Regions from separate parts of the Homo sapiens genome. Here all the other regions are reported to be linked to region 4. The links are microRNA targets in miRTarBase. Many come from high-throughput screens and were not tested one by one. Region 4 holds a microRNA gene; each other region holds the end of a gene's coding sequence.
What was found. Region 4 holds the annotated microRNA hsa-miR-6801-3p (ACCCCUGCCACUCACUGGCC, at 3,001-3,020, opposite strand). A microRNA usually pairs through its seed, bases 2 to 8, with sites in the 3' UTR of a target mRNA and lowers its output. Matches are read on the target gene's strand: a 7mer-m8 pairs with bases 2 to 8, a 7mer-A1 pairs with bases 2 to 7 and ends in A, and an 8mer does both.

Region 1: miRTarBase lists TBX2 as a target of hsa-miR-6801-3p. Seed matches in the 3' UTR shown: 7mer-m8 at 3,945-3,951 and 7mer-A1 at 3,718-3,724.
Region 2: the mRNA of TOM1 is a reported target of hsa-miR-6801-3p. Seed matches in the 3' UTR shown: 7mer-A1 at 1,078-1,084.
Region 3: the mRNA of OR1L8 is a reported target of hsa-miR-6801-3p. The part of its 3' UTR that is shown has no 7-base or 8-base seed match.

What each region holds. Positions count from the first base shown.
Region 1 is chr17:61,407,401-61,412,794 of GRCh38, reverse strand. TBX2 (T-box transcription factor 2) reads right to left here. Exons shown (of 7, transcript NM_005994.4): 7 at 3,329-4,741. The coding sequence ends at 4,289. It overlaps LINC02875 (long intergenic non-protein coding RNA 2875), which reads right to left and starts at 1,044. Exons shown (of 1, transcript NR_160788.1): 1 at 1-1,044. RefSeq lists silencers at 38-97, 1,698-1,867, 3,028-3,177, 3,188-3,237, 3,248-3,307 and 1 more and an enhancer at 1,747-2,329.
Region 2 is chr22:35,346,738-35,352,131 of GRCh38, forward strand. It overlaps TOM1 (target of myb1 membrane trafficking protein), which reads left to right. Exons shown (of 15, transcript NM_005488.3): 14 at 193-232; 15 at 318-1,236. The coding sequence ends at 472. Among named protein-coding and RNA genes, the nearest start is that of MIR6069, 13 kb to the left of the region's middle. RefSeq lists enhancers at 2,580-3,112, 3,113-3,645, 4,236-4,744, 4,311-4,430 and a silencer at 4,091-4,210.
Region 3 is chr9:122,562,993-122,568,386 of GRCh38, reverse strand. It overlaps OR1L8 (olfactory receptor family 1 subfamily L member 8), which reads left to right. Exons shown (of 5, transcript NM_001004454.2): 5 at 1-1,270. The coding sequence ends at 839. It also overlaps a transcript of OR1J2 not described here. Among named protein-coding and RNA genes, the nearest start is that of OR1N2, 13 kb to the right of the region's middle.
Region 4 is chr19:52,219,739-52,225,093 of GRCh38, reverse strand. It overlaps MIR6801 (microRNA 6801), which reads right to left and starts at 3,074; the gene lies at 2,996-3,074. PPP2R1A (protein phosphatase 2 scaffold subunit Aalpha) reads right to left here. Exons shown (of 15, transcript NM_014225.6): 10 at 5,230-5,355; 11 at 4,845-4,905; 12 at 3,961-4,115; 13 at 2,853-2,995. RefSeq lists an enhancer at 2,335-3,534.

The DNA of each region.
Region 1 (5,394 bases), not on the chromosome of region 4:
GGCGCTGCCGGGCGGTTCTGGCAGCAGGGGAGAAGGCCCCACCCCGAGCCTCAAGCCCTCCGCTCAGTGTGTCCGCAGCCCCGGAGTCCCTCGGTCCCTCGGCGGCCTGTGCCGGGCTCCGGACCCGGCTCTGCCTGTGTCGGTGGCTGTGCCTCCGTGCCCCGCTTGCCGGGGTCCGCAGTCTATCTCCCGCTCTCGCCCGAGGCGGGCTGTGAGGCCGCGGCCCGGGCCCTGGCCTGCAGCGCCATCTCGTGGACCTGTGAGGAGTTGCCGAGGCCCGAGGCCTGGGCGGGCTCTGGGTTCGCTCCCACTCGTGCTCCCGGCGGGGAGCTGCGGGAGCTGCCAAGAGGACTCGCTGGGAAACCAGGCGCGGCCGTCAGCGCTGGAAATCGGTGCTTCCGGAGTGGGTTTGGGGTCCCCGGCCCCATCCAATAGGAGGAACAGATATGCGCCTCCGGAGAGCCCAAAAGGAAGTCCAAGTGCAAAACCGCCCCGGGCGTGCTCGGACACGTTCAGCGCCCGGCAACCAGCCTCCACCCCGAAGGCGCTCCCGGGAGGGTGCCCAGGAGACCCGGAGCTCGGGCTTCCTCCCAAGAGGGCGGGGGCTCCCTCCGCTGCCGCCCTGTCCTGCGAGCAGGGAGCGCTCGGCCTCCTGCGGGATCCCGCCTGACCGCCGGTGCTCCGCACCTCGGGGCCAAGGACAGCGAAGGAGGGGGAGGAAGCGGGACTGGATTTTGGGTCCTTCCCAGAGCGGAGGAAGGCAGGCTCGGGGTATAAATCCAGGGCTCGTAGAGGCTGTCCCTCAAGGGGCCGTCCCATAACCGGGAAATAGGGGGTCCCGGCCTCAAGCCGGGGCGCTTGAGCGTGAGAGTCCCGGGGAGAGCGAGGCTGAGCGCGCCCCTCCCGCCCCAGGAGCACCCCACGCAGGAGTTCGCGGTCAGCTGGGGAGGCGGGCCCGGGAGCTGCGGCCTTCGGGAGGGCAGGGCCAGGCCATACCGGTGGCTCCGGTTCTCCACAGCAGCGGCGGGGGAGTGGAGGAGGAAGGGCTTGAGGGCTCGGAAGATTCCGATTAACCCGAGAGGAAATGAGGTCCCCTGGGCCTTGGGATCCGGGCGGCTTAGCCGCTAGGGGTCTCTCGGAGCCCCTGCACTCACACCCTCCATCTCCGAGTTCCTCCGGGAATCGCACGCGCCACCCCACACCGACACGCACAATTCCCTCTTAGACCTCACACGCCCCACACGCGAGAGCCCGAGGCGACAGGCTAGGCCGCCAGCAGGTATCGCCATCGTCCCAGCACTGGCCCTCCTGCCACGCGTGTGCCGGCGGCTCTGCCGTCCAAGGACCCCGGGCCAGGCCCTGAAGGGTTAAGGAGGCCTTGCGGCACCGGAGCGGCGGGTACGCCGGGCGCCTAGGCTAATTGGCGACCCCGGGGACAATGAGGGCTGGGAGGCCGGGGAGGAGGGTGGCTTAATTGGACATGGGAGTGGCCTAGCCTTTGTCTGGGACAAGGCCCAGCCGCCGGCCGCGGGTTCCCGCAGTCGCACTCAGGCTACCAGCTGGGGCCCCGCGGAGCGCCGGGTGGGCGACTCGGAGGGGACATGTGCGGCGGGAGGTGGCGGCGAAAGTGGTGTGGGGGATCTCGAGGCCCTGGAGTCCCACCCCACCCCACCCGGGTTGCTGCAGCAACGACGCGGCCTAAAAACGGCCGCGACTAGGCCGCCCCGCCCGGCCTTCGCAGGCACCCGCCTCCCCCGCGCCCATGCCCGCACCCGCACCCCTCCCGCGACCCTAAGTCGGTGCTGCCCCCTGGTGTCCGCAGCCCTGTACGTAGGCCGCCGCGGGCGCGCAGCCGACTCTCGTCTCCCTCCTAATGTCCTGCTGAAAGTGAGAAGCCGCGGGACGCAAACGCGCCGCTCCTCTAGGAGTATGAGAGGCGTTTCAGCCCAAAGCGACCTCCAGCAAACGCGCTGCCCACGAGCTTCTATTTAGGCTGGAAAACGGGCTTCTCTGTCCCTGTCGGGTTCCCGGACCTGCCCGCAGGTCTGAGGCAGGGAAGCCAGAACCCACCCTCTGGGGTTGGGATACGTTCTACTGCAACCTCCCACTCGTGCACTGGCTGAGTCCCCTCCCTGCTCCAGCCGCATTCGGCGTGGCCTGGGGGCAGCACCATCCTGAAGAGGCGGGCCTGGTTCTCTCTCTCTCGCTCCTTGCAAATGTATCGGCCCACAAAGGCGTCCTGGGAGTCTGGGGGCCCAACTGTCCATTCCACCTTCACCATCACCGTTCCTCCATCTCAACGTCCCTGGTGTTTTGGAAGCCAGCACCCTCCCCAAGCCCCACCCTGTGCAGTGCCCAAGGTGGGCAGCCTGTTGGGGCAGGGCGTTCAGGGTCCCCAAGGCTTAAAGAGGAGAGAACTGGGAAGGAGGTGGCGTGCTCGGTGACCGACCAGACCCAGGGCTAAAGGAGTGCCCGCCCAGCTCCCACTGCTAGAAGTGGGGGCTGGAGACACCTGCTAGCTGGGCAAGGAGGGGGAGCTCACCGGCGCGGGGTGGGAGGCAGCTGTCCTTGCAGGAGTGGGTCTCGGGGAAGGACCAGCCTAATGGAGACTGACACAGCTGGACCCCGGAGAGACCCCAGCCAAGCCCATTATTATACAGGGGAAACTGAGGCAGGAATGGAAATAGCCCACTGACCCCACTCTCCACTCTCCCAAGAGGGATTTAGATAGATGAGTTAAAGTAAGACCTTTTAGTCCAGATTTTGCCACTCTAGCCAACAGCCCTGACGCGGAGGAAATGTTTGTCTTTGAGGTTCAGGAGGCAGAGAGAGGGGAAAGAATTCTAGGCTCAGCGATATTTGGCGGGGAGTACGGGGGTGGGACACAGCCAAACCCCTCCTCCGAAGGGAGAGGTTGGACAAGGAACACCCATCCTCCCAGCCCACCCACCCAGAAGCATTGAAAGGAGATGGGTTTCCAGTGTGGTTTCCCGGAAAGGGAGTCAGAAGCCAGGAGTCCAGGCCGCTCGGCTGCTCTCCTCCCGGCCCGGGTGGGTGCCCAGGCCCGTTGCGCGGAGCTGCGGGAGCGGCCGGCAGGGGGAGTCCAGCCCCGGCCTGGGACGCACCCCGCGTCCCGCGCCGGCGCCGCCCGGCCTCGCGGCTCCGCCAGCGCCCCAGCCGCCCTGCCGCCGTGCCGCCCTGCCGTCCCCGGGGTGCAGCTGCCGCCGGGCGAGGGGCGCGCAGCCTTTTGTCCCCGCCTCTCGTCCCTCCTTGCGCGCGTGCAGCGCCCCAGCCCCGCGCGACCCACAGAGCGCACAGCGCCGTTCACTTCGCTTTCTAGCGTTTTATTGTTTTCTTGCGTTTTTGTCGTTTCGTTCTCGCTCCGGAGCGAAAAGTGAAAACCTGAGGTGGAGCCCGCGGGCCGGGCGAGCCAAACCCGGGCGGAGGGGCCGAGGGGCCGAGGGGTCGAGGGGCCGGCGGGGTGGTGGCTCCTCCAGGGCTCTGGGCCTTCTCCCGCAGCCAAGGGCCCCCCCAGCCCTGTACAATATAGATGCTCACGTAAAATGAAAAAAACTTTAAATGTATGAGTTAATCTCTAAATATATGTACACAGCAATGTACACCTTTGAATAAATTAATACCAATTTGCATATTCTGGGAACCTTAAAGCTTATTTACACAAATTACCATTTATTTCATAAATATCTTTTTTTTTTTTCCCCTGGGGACTCAAGGCAGAAGTGCCACTCCCTCCGTTGACCACGGCTGGGAGGGGTGCCTGTCTCTTCAGGGAAGAGGTGGGGAGACTAACAGGTTCCCTCCCAGCTCAGGTCTACACTGACTTCAGTCGTAACTGGTTCCAGCATCCCTCAACCCAGTTTTATCACGCGGTCTAGGCCCAAGGTCCAGGGCTCTGGGACTCCCTCCGATGCTCCCACCCCTGGCCCCTGCACCTTCTGGCTTCTGCAGGGACCGCTGGGCCCTGGATGAGGCCTCTCCCACCTCGCTGGAAGACCAGAGACACCTTCGGATGCCACCTTGACGCTGGAGCGGATCTGGACCTAGCCCAGCAGCTCCCAAGTGACTGTGTTTCCAGCAGCCTGATCCTTGTTGAGGCCCAGGGAAGTGTCCCAGGCCCCGACTTGCCAGACGAGGCTCTATTCCGGCTGCTGCAGCCCACTTTTCTCCTTTATTTAAATAAATACTCATTCTGTGCTGTACACGTCCCAAGCAGCAGGGGCAGGCAGCCCGGGTGGCCTGCGTGGCAGGGGAGCAGCTGGGCAGCCCCTCACTTGGGCGACTCCCGGCCTGGGGAGAGGGCTCGCTGGCTCTCCAGCCCACTCACCAGTCTCTGGATGCTCTGCAGTTCATTGGCCGCCTCCTTGGCCGAGCCACTGGGCGACAGGGCACCGCGGGATGGGGCCCCTACTTTGCGGAGAGCCAGCTCGGGCAGGGGGCTAGGCTCCCGGCTGTTTCCACCAGCGGCCTTGGAGCCCTCAGAGGCCAGCCCGGTGGTGAGGAGGCTAGTGCTAGGCGGGATGGTGACCGGGATCTGATAGGGGCTGAAACGCAGTCGGGGCCGGGCACTGCCCAGGAAGGGGCTCCGGGAGAGGGAGCCGGCGGCTGCGGCGGCGGCAGCTGCAGCACTAGTGGCGGGCAAAGCCGAGGCGGCTGCGGCTGCTGCTGCCATGTAGGTGTAGGGGTAGGGGAAGAGGCCTCCGAAAGTGGGCATTGGAATTCCCTGGAAGAAACAGAACAAGACGAGGGTTAGACATCTTGCCTGAAGTCTTTCTGAAGTTGGGCTGGGTGCTATCCCCTGGACACCGTGCCCTTCTGTTTTAGGGATGTAAAACCACAATTCGCATAACTATAACCACAGGCAGCACAGGTAAGCATGAGCCAGTGTGCCTGTGGCCAAACCCAGTTAGAAGGGTGAGATCGCTTCAGGCTACCATGCAAAGGCCTGCCATCAAGTTCTGTGCTGGGCATTACAGCAGGGGTAATGGAAAGGACATTCCAGGTGACTGCCCTAGCACGGGTGAAGGCCTTGAGGGAGAAAACGGGGCAGGCATAGGGCCAGGTGGCAAACAGGCAGCTTTGGGTGTCTTGGAGGTTCTGCTCATTGAGAACAGTGTCCTCGCCACCCCTCCTATCTGCAGGCTCTGAAGGGCAGAGGGCACACATGCTGGGGAAGGCACTTTGCAAAGTCTCCTTCTGCCTGCTCATGGTTCTCCTGCCTGGGCCAGGAGGAGGACACGGGTGCCAACCAGTTCATAAACTGGCCTGAAAGTTCTACAGGGAATGCCTGGCAGCACCTCACTGGCAGCTGAGGAAGGAATGCAGTCTTTGCCTGTGAAGGGCACAGCAGCCAGGAACTCCTGGACAAGCACCTTC
Region 2 (5,394 bases), not on the chromosome of region 4:
CCCAAGGAAGGTCCTACGGCTCAGGGAGGAGCCCAGGTCCAGGTCCTGGGACCTGGGTGGTGGGGGCGTGCAGAGCCTGAGCTGGGACCCAGTGCTGAGGTTCAGCGGGGCCCGAGCTGCAGCACCACTGCCCCAGGCTGACCGTACTGGGGGCCCGGCTAACCTCTGCCTCCTTTCCTTCTACCTTCCCAGGGTAATGATGCGGAAGAGCCTAAGGGGGTCACCAGCGAAGGTAGTAGTCCCCGCCCCTGCCCGCCCTCTCCTTTCCCCAGGGCTCTGGCCTCAGGGCCTACCCTCACCCTCTCCCCTTCCTCTAGAATTTGACAAATTCCTGGAAGAACGGGCCAAAGCCGCGGACCGATTGCCCAACCTCTCCAGCCCCTCAGCTGAGGGGCCCCCGGGTCCCCCATCTGGCCCAGCGCCCCGGAAGAAGACCCAGGAGAAAGATGATGACATGCTGTTTGCCTTATGAGTGTGGGGTCTGGCACCCTGCAGCCCAGGTCCCCACTGCTCTCACACCCTTAGGCTGGGACCTCCCTCCCTCCTCTGGTGTTAAGGCTGCTTTGGGGGTGGCTTGTTACCCCCTTTTCCTCCTCTTTGAAGACGGAGCTGCCCCAGCTGTGGCTGGGGGTGTGGAGGCAGTGGGATGAACTGGGGGACAGGTCTGCGCTGCAGTGGGATCTGGCTGCTCTGCCTCCTTTCCCACCCCAGCTGACCATGAGACTTTGCTGAGAAGTGGAGGCCCCAGGACAGGCTGGCTGGCTGGCTGGCTGCTTGACCCAGTGTGACTCTCCTTCACTGAGTGATACCCTGCTCCGGGCCCATGCCCCAAGGAGCCCTTCAGAGCCCACACTGCCAGTCGAGGCCTGGCTGGAGGCTGGCCACAGTGGAAATTCTGCCGAGCCTCTTGTCCCTTCCCTGCTCTGCTGCATGGGGCCCCATGGCTTTGGCTGGCCACTGAGGGTAGGGTGTGGAGGTGTGGAGGCCCCCTGAGGAGCTGCGGCGGCCCAGGTACGAAGCTGCAACTCTGCGCGCAGTGGGCGAGATCTCATCAGCCCCAGGCTGCAGGTGAGGCTTCAGGGGATGCTGGGGCCCCACTGCCCCTCCGCTGCCTTGCCCTCCATCCTTCCTCTGTTCCTTCTGGCCGGGCACCACAGCACTGGGGCTCACCTCTTGGTTGATCCTCTTGTACTGGGAGAGGTGCCTTTTGTATCCCCAATTAAAGGTAGAAAACCACCCTGCTAGCAGCATTGTCAAGTCTCCTGGTCAGAAATGACTTCTTGGCCTCACAGAGGCAGCGACTACTTTGGGCAGGGCTGGGGGCCATCCGAGAGGTGAGCATCTGTAGATGGTGCAGGCGGAAGGACAGGAGCAAACACCCAGCTACACTACGCAGGTGCCGCCTCCTCCCACCTCACATGGCAGGCTCCAGCCACCGCCCCTGCCCGGAGGATGCATGCCCTCCCCAGCTGACACCCCTCCCTCCTCAAGGCACCTTCGTGCTGCTGTTCCATGAGGCCAGCTCCTGCCCTGCACAGAGCACACTAATCACAAGGGCGGGGACCTGTGTGGACTGTGTGCGCATGTGGGGTGCACAGGCCACAGGAGGATGCTGGCCTTCCGAGGCTGGGTGCCAGGCACAGCCTGGGGCTACGCACTGGCTCGTAGCATCACAACAGCCTGGGAGAAGCAAAGTGAGCGTCCTCGATGTATAGATGCGGAGACTAGGACTCCATGAGCCGCCCAGCTCAGAGGAGGAAGCTCATGCAGTTGTCATGTGCCAGCATTTCCTCATGCAGAAGCGCATCCTCCCCATTTTCCAGGCACCAAAGCTAAGTTGGGAAGACATGGCACACAGTTCCAGACGCTGGGCCCCAGGTCAGGTGCAGGGGGTCAGCTCTTCCCTCCATGGCAGCTCAAGAGCCCCAGGTCTTAGGGTGCCACCTTTTCAGGTGTGGGATCTCTAGGCCAGACTCCCTGGGAGTCACTGCTGAGGCATGTTGGAGCCTCCTGGCCCAGGACACGGTCGGGGAACGGTGTGAGGCCAAAGCAATTGGGTCCACAGGGTCCTGGGCTCCTGGGAGAGGGCCGAGGTCTGTGTGAGCAGCCACTGATTCCCATGGGCAGTGGGCAGGCAGCACCTGCCATCTGAGGTATGGTCTGGAGCTGGGCATACAGGAGACCAGGCCCAGCCCAGCCCTCAAGATGGAGTTGGGGCAAGGAAAGCAGCTGGGGGCAGGCACACTGGTGCCAGGCAGGGGAGGGGGAGGCCCTGCCGCCATCAGGATGCTCATGGTCCAGGCCAAGCTCCCTCTGCCACATCCAGGGCATCTGTGAGCTCCTGCCAGGTGCCCTACCCTGGCCCAGCCCTTTCAGTACCTCACAACAGCCCCAGGGGGTCAATGGTGTTGGCCACCAGTTACAAATGGGGAAACTGAGGCTGAGGGAGGAAGGGACTTGCCTGGTCATACACTAAGTAATGGAAGACTGGGACCCCCAACCTTCCTCACTGCTGCCTCACCTGCCTGCCCCACCCACACCCCACTGCCTGCTTCCCTCATTCTCTCCCTACTTAACTGGGGACCTCTTAGAGGGGAGTTGTGATTTTACAAGGATCAAAGCCAAGGCCTCCTCTCCCCTGTGTTAGCTGGGAAACCCAAGGAAACTTCCACAGAAGGCCCCCAGGGCTGGGAGGGCCTCAGGTGCTAAGGGTGAAAACTGCCAGGTTGTTCATTCCTCCCTGTGGGTGCATCCCCTGGGAGCCAGCTGCACACAGCATAGCGCTAGGTGCCCGCCAGACAGAAGTGAAGCGGCCAGGTGCCAGCCCTGTGGGGTCACGTGGGAGGGAAAGGGACGAGAAAGACAGACATAAACTCAATCATTGTTTCACGCTGTGAAAAGAAGAAGATGGGACGGGACGCCCAGGGCCAGGAGGCTCTCTGTGAGGACGGCCTAAGGCTGCTGAGGTAAGATGGGGTGGGCTGGGCCATGAAGGGCCTTGAATGCCAGGCAGGAGGTGGCCCCTGCAGAGGTCTCGGCTTGGCTGGCTGGAACAGTTCCAGGCTGCCTGAAGGCCTCCTTCAGAGAGAAGGCTGCTGGGGCTGCATGGGGGCTGGGGGGGGGGGCGCTGGCGGGAATTCATCAGTGCAGTCAGGCTGGGTTCCCTGGCAGCAGGCTCTGTCTGAGGCTGCAGGCCTGGGCGGGATCACTTTACAGCTGCAGGAAGTCTTGGCCCCAAGAAAATGAGGGCCAGCTGTCTGGTGGGAGCCTTGGGTAGGAGCAGGGCCTCCACCTGGCACCACAGGGCAGGATTAACGAGGTGCCGCCGCTCCCGCTGGGCCCAGCTACATCGGAAGGCGCTGGGCCGGGGGCATGGAGGGGAGGGGTTGAGTGGAGCTGGGAGGGGCTGGTGGGCAGGGGAAAGGGCGCCTGGGGGGCAGCCCCAGGCCTGCCTTTGAGGAAGCCTTTTGCAGAGCCTCCACCAAGCCCTCTCCCTCCTGGCTCCCCTGGGCCACCACGATCCCACCCTGGGCCTGGACACCGACCCCTCCACCTCCTGCCCTAGTGTCAGTACCCACCTCCCAGACCGGCCACTTCTGGGCTGTGTGACCTTAGGCAAATTACTTAACCTTTCTGTGCTTCTGTTTTCTCACTGGTAAAATGGGCAGATAACACTCGTTGCCTCATAGGGTTGTTAGGGTTGACTGAGCCAACAAGTAACTCAGCACCTGCCATGTAGACAATGCTCTGTACATGTTGTTATTGTCACGGATGGTTCCCTGCTCCCTTCCAGAATGGCCTCTGCTCCAGACACCTGGCTCAGAGCCCTGCCCCTCAGACTCCTCAGTAATTCTAGGGACCCCTGCTCTGCCTCTGGTATTGCCTTCCCAGCTCCAGAATAACGTCTGTCCCTACTCCCCACTGGGAGAGAACCAAAGGACTGTGTCTGTCTTTCCTCCTGGTCTGGGCTGCTAACCCTAAGAGGGTCAGGGCTGTCTTGATCCTGGCAACACGGCAGGGTCCCCCTGGCGTTCCTGGATTGGGCTCTGCGGGCTCTCGGTAGGCGCTTTAGGAAGCCTTTGCCCGCTCCAAGGTGGCTGGAGGTAGGCCCAGTTCTGAGTCCTGAGCACGGTCTACGGCCCCTGCTCAGGGTCAGTGTTTCAAGGCGACCACGAGATGGCAGTAGCACTGCATGTACAGGGCTTGCCGGGGCACTAGGGTGGAGTCCACCGCGGCCAAATCAGCCCCTCCCGGGTACAGACACCGGGAGAAAGGGGCGGGTGCTGCCGGCTCCTGCCCGCTCCTGCCCCGCGCGAGCTCACAGGCGCGCGCGTGCACACACACACGCGCACACGCCCTCTGACTGGTGGGGCTGAGTAACAATGGTGATGGGGCTGGGAGCTGGAGTCCGAGGGTCTGGCTTCACCGCCGGGCTCTGCTGTGGGACTACACAAGGGATTTCATCTCTGGAAGCCTCAGATCTTCTTAAACGTCCCGATTCACAGGGTTGTGGGGAGGATTTGGTGAGACAAGCTGGGAGCTCAGCTACGGGAGCTTTGGGTGGGCAAAAGTGAGCCCGGTCCCCTCCCTCTCTTTACAGAGCCCCGGTGTGCCGTTGCTGGGGCCCCCTGCTCCCGCGCCTTCTCAGCCGACACGCTCAGATCCGTGTGCATTGCCGTTTCTGTCTCCACGTGTAGACAAATCATGAGCTCGCCCAGTAACTCCAGCTCTACCACAGATTCCTTCTCTTTTCCGCCCTTCCCCTATGTCTAATTCCCTTCTCCAGCAGTGAGAAACCTGCTTCCCGCCGTCCTTCATTCCTTCTCTCCCCCCATCCCCGCAGAAACCAATCTCTGTTGCCACCACTGCCCCGTCCTGCCAGTGCCTCCCACCCTCTCCGCGTGGACCGCCACCACCCTGCCCCACAGACAGGCCCCTAGACACAGAAATCTTCTTTCTCACAGTTCTAGAGGCTGAAGTTCAACATCAAGGACGTGGACTCCATCTGTTCAGTTGGTTCCTTCCGGCCCCTCCGTGGCTGTATATGGTCATCTTCTCCCTGGGGCCTCACATCATATCCCCTCTGCATCTCTCTATGTTCAAAAGTCCCATTTTTATAAGGACAGCATTCATCAAGGATTAGAGTCCACCTAATGATCTATTGTACCTATTGTACCTTAATCACTTTTTTTTTTTTTTTTTTTGAGACAGAGTTTCACTCTTGTTGCCCAGGCTGGAGTGCAATGGCGCGATCTCGGCTTACTGCAACCTCCGCCTCCCAGTTCAAGCAATTATCCTGCCTCAGCCTCCTGAGTAGCTGAGATTACAGGCATGCGCCATCACACCTGGCTAATTTTGTATTTTTAGTAGAGACGGGTTTTCTCCATGTTGGCC
Region 3 (5,394 bases), not on the chromosome of region 4:
TCTTCCTCATCGTGTACCTGGTCACCATAACAGGGAACCTGCTCATCATCCTGGCCATTCGCTTCAACCCCCATCTTCAGACCCCTATGTATTTCTTCTTGAGTTTTCTGTCTCTCACTGATATTTGCTTTACAACAAGCGTTGTCCCCAAGATGCTGATGAACTTCCTGTCAGAAAAGAAGACCATCTCCTATGCTGGGTGTCTGACACAGATGTATTTTCTCTATGCCTTGGGCAACAGTGACAGCTGCCTTCTGGCAGTCATGGCCTTTGACCGCTATGTGGCCGTCTGTGACCCTTTCCACTATGTCACCACCATGAGCCACCACCACTGTGTCCTGCTGGTGGCCTTCTCCTGCTCATTTCCTCACCTCCACTCACTCCTGCACACACTTCTGCTGAATCGTCTCACCTTCTGTGACTCCAATGTTATCCACCACTTTCTCTGTGACCTCAGCCCTGTGCTGAAATTGTCCTGCTCTTCCATATTTGTCAATGAAATTGTGCAGATGACAGAAGCACCTATTGTTTTGGTGACTCGTTTTCTCTGCATTGCTTTCTCTTATATACGAATCCTCACTACAGTTCTCAAGATTCCCTCTACTTCTGGGAAACGCAAAGCCTTCTCCACCTGTGGTTTTTACCTCACCGTGGTGACGCTCTTTTATGGAAGCATCTTCTGTGTCTATTTACAGCCCCCATCCACCTACGCTGTCAAGGACCACGTGGCAACAATTGTTTACACAGTTTTGTCATCCATGCTCAATCCTTTTATCTACAGCCTGAGAAACAAAGACCTGAAACAGGGCCTGAGGAAGCTTATGAGCAAGAGATCCTAGGAAGCACCCTCTTGAAAAACTCGTAAGTGGAATCTGCTCAACTTGGACGTGTTTTCTACTGGTTTCTGGTGAACAGTCAAAGCTGTTGGAAGCTAGCACTTCTGACCCATGTGAGACAAGGCTATTGTGGGCACTTACATCCATTGATGATGACCCAACAATTCGGCCTGTATCTCTTAAATCACAATCGTTTCCTGTCTGTGTCTCCTCTTTCTTGGAAAGATTTATTTTTTCCACTTTCTCATTTTCCAAAAACTGCTTTAATCTAATCCTTTCCCCATGAATATTTCCTAAACAAATTTCTCTCCTTTTATTAAGGCAGATCCTCCAAAATTCTTCACATTTCAATATATTGCTGAAAAATGTGTAATTTGTAGCCATTGAATGTTTTTGCAAAAAAATTGAAAAGAGAAAGAATGAAGGAAGAGGAGGATATATATTTTAGCTAATTTTCTCTTCTTGAGAATTTTTATAATTTTTTATTTTTCTCCTTCTAAAAATGTTTTATTGCTTAAATCTTAAGCTTTTACTTTTTTATCTTTCTATCCTTCCTTTATTATACTGCTGTAGTTTTATTTACTTTTAATTTCCTCTTATATTTTATCATACAATTTAAAAATGCTAATGGTCAGAAAGAACAAAAACCACAAGGGATAACATGGAAATTATCCATTTCACACAGGGGAGGTTGAAACATTTCTTCTGGTTCACCTTCCCATAAACTATGTGTTTAAAATGTGTGATTTAATACTTCGTCTAGAAACTGTCATTTCTAGGACTCTAGCCTATAGAAATATTATTATAAATTTGTATTGAGTAATATTATTGTAAATGTGTATTGAATATTGTGAGATATATGTATATATAATCTCCAAAGATGTTCAGGGAAATCCCAGTTTATAATAGGTAAAAATGGCAACAACCTAAAACCTTTTCAATAGGGAAATGGAGAAAGATGCTATGACTAATTCCATAAAGTGTAACTATATGCAGCATGTTCAAAGAATCAAATATATCTTTACTGCTTCCTTGAAAAGCCATTAAGTAAGAAAATTAAGATATGGAACAAATGTAAAAGTATGAATCCATTACATTAAAACATTATATAAATATGAATGTACATATGTGTGTAGCCACTGGGGTAAGAATGGAAGGGCAGGGGGAAACATGGAGGGAGAATATTTCCTCATCTTTATACACAGTTGTAATGTCTGAATTTCTTCAAATAAACATTTATTGCCAATGGAATAGAAAACTATTAATAAACAAGATGACCTATGCAATGGTGAAAGACTTCATAAATTACCAGTTGAAGAAAAACTTTCTGAGTGCATGCATATCTAAAAACACGATTTTGGCACGTTTACTTTAGTAGACAATTTGATAATTTGATAGGATGCAGCATTCTAGGTCCAAAGCTTTTCTTTCAGATCTTTTAAAGATACATCTATATTATTCCAATGCCTCGGGTGTTTTCAGTGATAAATAAGAGGTCACCCTAATTTGTGTTCCTTTGTAATGATTTCCTTCTCATTGGATCATACTCCATAGATCCCTAACACCAAACATGGCTATGCTGCCACTGCTTAGGCCTTGGAAGAGCAGACCCTGATTCCACCTACTTTACTCCAAGCCTGAGTTTAGGAGTCCAGTCATTGTTCTTGACTGTGTGTATTCTCATGGGTGTCAACATGTAACAAAAAGGTAAAAAATAAAATACTAGGCAAACAGTTCTTAGAGTTGAAATCAAAAGCAAAGAGCATGATCCATAAAAGGAAAAATTTTAAAGTTGAACTTCATAAAAATTAAACTACTAGAAGGTGAAGGTGGGGAGAAGGTAAGTTAAAAACTACCTGTCAGGTATTATGCTCACTACCTGGGTGACGGGATCCATACTTCTTCTATGACAGAAGCAGACTAATGTAATCAACATACCACCAAGTAATTGGCTAATCACCCTTGGGAATGGTGCCATTGGGGGGCTCAGCGTTGGTCTCTGCTGCTGGCAGACTGGGCACTCAAAGGTGGCAGTGGCCAGGTCAGCCCTGGTTAGTGGGAGTACATGCTGCTGAACCCATACATAACCTCCATCCCTGCCGCCATGGCCATTTTGTTCATGAGCCCATTGGGCGATGACAGTGGTGGCTGGGGAAAGAGACTCACTGGTATCCACAAAACGGGTCATCCTATCCACTTATTAAAACCTCCCCTTCTGAGGTCATGCTTTGGTGAGTATTTACATGGGACACAGATATCTTCATATCTTTGCCCATTCATAGAGGTCTATTCACATTGCTCTTCCCCAGGTATCTTTGTCATCAATTTTCCAATCATGTTGCTTCCAAATCCCTGATCACCCAGAATGTGTTTCCTCTAAAATCCAAATAGATGCACCAGGCATAGTGCCTCTCTCTTGGGTGTAAGAGGGGCCAGACACCTATCCTTCACCTTAAAAGGGCTATCTGGACAGGTCTCACACCACTGGACCCTATAAATTTCACGAGGAAGTATAAGTCCCTTGAATTTTAGCCAGATTTATTTGTACTTTTTGACACACAAATGTCCTACCAATGAGTTCAGACTCACTAGGTCTAATTGGCACAATGTTATCAATATAATGGACCAGTGTGGCATCTTGTGGAAGGACAAGTGGTCGAGAATTCTGTGAACTTGATTATGACATGGGGCTGCAGAATTGATATACTCCTGAGGTATGACAGTTAAGGTGTACTGCTGGCCCTGCCAGCTGAAAGCAAGCTGCTTCTGGTGGGCATTACAGACAGGGATGGAGAAAAAGTCATTTGCCAGATCAATAGCTACACACCAGGTACCAGGAAATGTTAATTTGCTCAAGCAGTGAAACCACATCTGGTACAGCAGCTGCAATTGGAGTCACTGCTTGGTGAAGCTTATGATAATCCACTGTCATTCTCCAGGATCCATCTATCTTCTGCACAGGCCAAATAGGAAAGTTAAGCAGGGATGTGGTGGGGATCACCACCCCTGCATCTTTTAAGTCCTTGATGGTGGCACGAATCTCTGCAATTTCTCCAATGATACAACACTACTTTTCATTTACTATTTCCCTAGGTAGAGGCAGCTCTAATGGCTTCCATTTGGCCTTTCCCATCATAATACCCCCCCACTCCACAAGTCAGGAAACAAATGTGGGGATTCTACCAGGTGCTAAGTATGCCTATTCTAATTATGCATATTAGAATTGGAGAAATAACCACAGTTGCACTGGGGACATAACCACAGTTAGAATTGAGGAAATAACCACAAGATGGGTTTTGGGATCGAGTGGACACACCGTAAGTTGGATCTGAGCTAAAATTTCATTAATCACATGACCCCCATAATTGCCTACTCTAACTAGAGGGCAACAGTGATGTTTCGTGTCTCCTGGAATCAACATCAGTTGAGAGCCAGTGTCCAGTAGTCCCCAAAAGATCAGATCATTTCCCTTTTCCCAATGCACAGTTACCTTGGGAAATGACAGGAGGCATCACACTACCTGACTTCAAAACATACTATAAAGCTATAGTAACTGAAACAGCATGGTCATAAATACAGACATATGGATAATGAAACAGAATAGACAACCCAAAAATAAATCATGTATCTATAGCCAACTGATTTTTGACAAAGGTGTGAAGAATACACATTGGGAAAAGCACAGTTTCTTCAATATATGATGTTATAAAAACTGAATATGTGTATGCAAAAGAATAACTAGATCTCTATCTCTTACCACATACAAAACTCTGCTCAAAAGAAATTAACAACTTGACTGTAAGACCTGAAACTATGAAAATACTAGACAAAGCCATAGGGGAAATGCTTTATGACATTGATCTGGCTAAAGATTAATTGGATAAGACCTTAAAAGCATAGACAACAAAAGCAAAAATAGACAAATGGATTTACATAAAACTAAATTGCATCTGCGCAGCAGAGGAAACAATCAACAGAGCAAAGAGACAACCTACAGGATGGGAGAAAATATTTGCAAACTATGCATCTGTCAAGAGGTTAATATGTGGAATATATAAGAAACTCAAATGTCTCGATAACAACAAAAAAACAAATAAATGATTTTAAAAATGGAGAAAAGACCTAAATAGATATTTCTTAAAAGAAGACATCTATATGGTCAACAAGCTTATGGAAAAATGCTCAGTATCACTAATCATTAGGGAAATGCAAATCAAAATCACAATGAAATATACAATAAATTATTGTTAACTATACTATGATGTATCCATAAAATTTAAAAATAAAAACAAACTTTTTAAAAACACAATGAGATATCACCTCATCCCAGTTAGAATGGCTATTATCAAAGAGACAAAAAAAAAAATAACAAATGCTAGTGAGGATGTGGAGAAAGGGGAGCACTTATACACTGTTGGTGAGAATATAAATTAGTACATCCATTATGGTCAACAGTGTCAAGATTCCTCAAAAAATTAAAATATATCTACCATATGATCCAGTAGTCCCACTACTGGTTATATATCCAAAGGAAAAGAAATAAGTACGTCAAAGAGTC
Region 4 (5,355 bases):
GTGAGCCAAGATTGCATCATTGCACTCCAGCCTGGGCAACAAGAGCGAAACTCCGTCTCAAAAAAAAAAAAAAAAAAAAAAAGGTAAACTCAAGGCCGAGCACGGGGGCTCAAGCCTGTAATCCTAGCACTTTGGGACGCCAAGGTGGGCAGACCACTTGAGGCCAGGAGTTCAAGACCAGCCTGGACAACATGGGAAAACCCCCATCTCTACTCAAAGTACAAAAATTAGCCAAGCATGGTGGTGCACACTTGTAATCCCAGCTACTTGAAAGGCTGAGGCACAAGAACTGCCTGAACCCAGGAGGCAGAGGTTGCAGTGAGCCGAGATCGCACCACTGTACTCCAGTCTGGGCGACAGAGCGAGATTCTGCCTCAAAGGAAAACCAAACAAACTGCAAAAAACCAACCAACCAACCAATTACTTAAAGGTCAGAAGTATGATAAACAAGGACTGGGGCCCCAAACAGGGAGATCAGAGCAGGCTGGGAAAGTGGAACAGAATCTCAGAACCCCCAAGTCTCTGAGGCCCAGCAAATGGGTATCTTTCATTGATTTCACACATATTCACTGAGGCCTACAATGTATTAGGAGTGAATACAGAGCTAAATCACTCTTGATTTCTGCCATGAGGCACCCGGGCCAGGAGGAAGAGACCAAACTGGTACGTAAGAGGGGAGTGGTAAGTGGCCCCAAGGGGAAGTTCCTGGTCCTCCAGGAGCCCAGAGGAGGCATCCACTCTCATCTATGGGGCCCAGGGAAATCCGCCTGCACCAAGAGTCAATTGTTTTGGAAAACGGAGGGGGACTTCGGAGAGAAACTAAAGCTGAGGTTGTGTCCTGGAACAGACAGAAAGAGAAATCTGCAGTTGTGGGTCCCACACTTTCAGTTGACAGTTCCCTGTTCTCCCCAAATAACCACTATTCTTACTTCCATCATCTCGATTCCTTCATTCTGCCTGTTTCTGAACTTGACATAAATGGTGTGTTTTCTTGATTTTGGCTCCTCACTCAACATGGTATCTGTGAGAGTCACCTGTTGCTGCTTATAGCAGGCATTTGTTTCGTCACTGCTGAATAGTTTTCCACTGTTTGAATGAACTAAAATTTATCTACTCTACTGTGGACAGACATGGAGGTTGTTTCCATTTTTACGGCTACTATGAATAAAGCTACCATGAACATTCTTCTGACAGAAACAGCACTCATTTCTCCTGGATAGAGACCCAGGAGTGGAAGGGCTGTTTCACAGGCTGTTTGTATAACAAGCTTCACCAAATTCCACTCCAGATCCACTCCCGTTTTCAGAGTGATCAAACCCTAAATGTACAGCCCCACGTGCAATGGATGAGAGTTCCAGCTCTTCTATGTCTTCACCATTTGCACCACTGAGTCTTTTTTAATGTTGGCTGTTCTGGGAGGCGTGTAGTCATATGTCACTGAGATTTAATTTGCATTTTCCTGAAGGCTAATGATGCTGAACACCCTTGTCATATGCTTACTGGCTATTTGGAGATCCTTTTTCAAGTGCCTATTCAAGTCTTTTTCCCCATCTCTTTCTTGTCTTGCCTGATTTGTAGACAGGTATTGTGGATGAGTCCTTTCTCAGAAACATATATTAAAACATCTTCCTCCAGTCAGTGGCTTGCATTTTACTCTCAAAATGCTGTCTTTTGAGAAACAGCGTTACATTTTACAGAAGGTCAACTTACCCATCACTTCCTCTGGTTTGCTGTTTAACAAATCTGTGCCTACGCTAACTCAAGAAGATATTTTCCTACATTTTCTTCTAGGTCCTTTATTTTTAAAATCTTTCTGGTTCTGGTCTGTCATCTCAAATTAATTTGTTTATGCATTGAGGCGAGCCTTCTTTTATTCCTAAATGGATATCAAATTGACTCAGCTATGTTTTTTAAAAAACATACATTTCTCCACTGAACTGCAGAGATGCCTACTGTTAAACACATGTGGGACTGTTTCTGTACCCTTGATTCCATTCTATTGGGCGATTTAAATATGCTTGTGTTCACATCTATTTTAATTATTGTGGTGTCATAAGTCTTCGTCTCTGGTAGTGTAAATCAGACAACTTTGTTCATTAGAAGTGTCAATTTTCCACTAAAGAACCTGTTAAGATTATTGGGCTTATACTGAATCTAAAGATGAGTTCAGGGAACTGTCCCATCCGTGAATATTATGTAGGTCTGCTTTAATTTTTTTTGAGACAGTCTCGCTCTATCGCCCAGGCTGGAGTGCAGTGGCATGATCTCAGCTCACTGCAACCTCCACCTCCTGGATTCAAGCAATTCTCTTGCCTTCAGCCTCCCAAATAGCTAGGATTACAGGTGAGTGCTACCGCACCGGCTAATTTTTTGTATTTTTACTAGAGACGGGGTTTCGCCATGTTGGCCAGGCTGGTCGTGAACTCCTGACCTCAACTGATCCGCCCACCTTGGTCAGGTCTGCTTTAATTTCTCACATTAGTGTTTTACAGTTTACATTAGAGGTGTTACATACACATCTTTCATTGAATTTATTCCTGGCTATTTGATATTTTTGGTGCAATTATAAATTATACACATACTTACATATAAAACATAAGGTGATTTCATTTTCTAATGACTTGTTGCTAGTATACAGGACTGCCAACCCATCACCCCCTCTTTCTATTTCATGCTGTGATGTTCATTTTACAGTTGAGAAAACACACCTTGAGAAGGGAAGGGAGCCAAGGTCACACAGCAAGCAAGGAGCGCTGCCAGGCCTCTGACCCTGGGCTCTACCTTCAAAGGTCAAAGATTAAGGTGCCCACAAGAAGCCCCTGCCAGTGTGTGGGGGAGTATCCAGACCTCACCTGTTGTCCAGGATGGGCCCTATCTTCTGCAGAGACTTGGCCACATTGAAGCGGACATTGGCAACCGGGTCCCCAGCCATGCGCAGAACCGTGGGTAGCATGTGCTTGGTGGTGATGTCCTGCCCACAGACCTCAGACAGCACCTGGGGGCCAGTGAGTGGCAGGGGTGAGTATGCAAAGCTCCTGGCTAACTCTCATTTCCTGCTGCCTCTGACCAGGCCACTCTGGTGATCATCAGGCCCCACAGAGGCTGAGCAATACGGGTGACTCAGTTAGTGGAGTGAATCTCCCAACTCCACTAACACCATCCTAACACCATGTCCCAGTTTCTCTGTCCTCAGGCTTCCCTTAATTATTCTGGAGATCGACCTTAATTACCAAGCCCTAGGATCCCTCCTTAAAGCAATGCTCTCCAGAGAGTGGCGTGGGAAGAAATGATCAGAACACTTAGTTATATTTATTTTTAAATCCCTTCCTTTCTAGCCCTGTGTATGGTTTACACATAAATAAGTAGTACATGAGATAATTATAATCGTAGGAAAAGCAAATAGACAGGAGCACTTCCTACCTGTAGCATAACTGTTCTAAGCCCTGTGCGTGTATAACCTGATTAATCTTCACGCTCACCAGGCTGTGATTACCAGTATGAATTCTTTACAGTATGAATTATTTACAAATGAGAAGACCAAAGCATCGGTTAGGTAACTATCCAAGGTCCATAGCTAATATATGGCAGTACCAGAATTTAAAACTAGGTCTGACCTAGAGCCCATACACTCACCCAACGCACCACAGATAGAGACACACATTTCTCAGGGAAGGAGAGGGGTGCTCATAAAGCTTGAGATCGCTGCTCCAACAGGTCAAGTCTCCCAGGCCCTGGGTCCCTCACCATCCAAGTCCCCAGTCCCAGAGGCCCTATGACCCTGACCCTGGGAGCCCCACCCCCTTGCCTGCAGTTCCCCAAGGACTCATCTCTGGATAGAAGATGCACTCCATGTCTCCATTCCCAAGCCAGGTGTCTCCCTTGGGGAACCCTCTAGCATCCCTCCTCTCCCACGCGCTCCAGTTCCCTAGGGATGGGCCAGCAGGCAGGTGGAAGGCTCACATTGATGCAGAAGAGCGTAGTCATGCGGTGCAGGTAGTTGGGGTCTCCGGACATGGCCAAGACCTTGGGGATGATTGTGGCATGGGCCCACTCCTTCCCAAACTTTTCCACTAGCTTCTTCAGGTTGCTGGTGGCTGCCTCGCGGATGGCATATACTGCAGAAGGGTGAGGGTGAGAGAGACAGGGATTTGGAGGTGAAGAACTGATGTGGGCAAAATGTAGGTCACACTCACCATGGCTTACAAAGCAGCCCCTAGGTGCCAGGCTGCATGTGAGCCAAAGAGAGAAAAAAGGACTTACTATGTGCTATATCTAGTAACTGTTTTTTTTTATACAGTATCTTTTCAACCACTCCAAGAGGTAGGTTCCACTACTGGCTTCATTTTACAGATGGGCAAACTAAGGCTCTAAGAAGTGATTTGCCTAAATTATGTGGCACTTATTACTTCAAACAGGGCTTCACAGAGATAAATATTACCTTTTATTTTTTACCTCTCTTAGTGTAAACAATGAGCCATTCTCATAATGGCCCCAAGGCACCAGAATAAGAAGTTTCAAAGAATGAGTGTGGGGCTCATTCAAAGACAGCAGGTGACTTGTTTTAGATCTGACAGCCCCAAGGGCAGGATTCAAAACCCTGGTCTGGCTGCTCAGTGGCCCTCTGGCTCTCCACTATACCAGGCAACCCCTGGGTGATCTGTTTCGTCCTCCTCCCACTCAACACTTCTCTAGGACTCTAACAAGCATGCGAGCTGGTCCATACGAGCATCCAGCGGCGTGGGGAGTGACTCTAGCCTCCTCCACTGCCCGCCACAGCCCCAGCCAATCCATCCTGCCTTTCTGGAGCTCCCATCTCCTCTTGCTGCTCCTGTGAAGGTACTCACCATGATCCACAAGCCAGGCCATGCACAAGGAGTTAAGTTTCTCATCAAAGAACTCCACTCCCTACAGGAGAAACCAAGGGTTCCAAGGTAAGCGTTCCAGGAGAGCAAACAGGGGGAGCTGCTAGCCACATCCCATGGAACCTACACCCACCCTAGAAAGACCGGACACTTCTCAACTTTGTCTGAGGTGCTCCTTTCCCTCCTCTCTCTTATTGAATCCAATGCATCTTTTAAGGCCCTATTTCCTGGGTCCCTTCCTTCGACTCCCCAGGCAGTTGTCACAGCCTCCACTAAGCCTTCAAAGCCCCGTTTCCCCATCACAGCCCTGGACATACTGCACCTCCCCTGAGGCAGCACTGCCTGGCCCCCAGGCCTCCTCACTCACCAGCTGTCCAGCCAGGAGGGGCATGTACTCAATGATGGCCAGCCGCACCCGCCACTTGGCGTCCTCAGCCAGCTCCACAATGGCAGGGAGCAGGGACTGGGACAGCTGCCGGATGCCAATCACCTC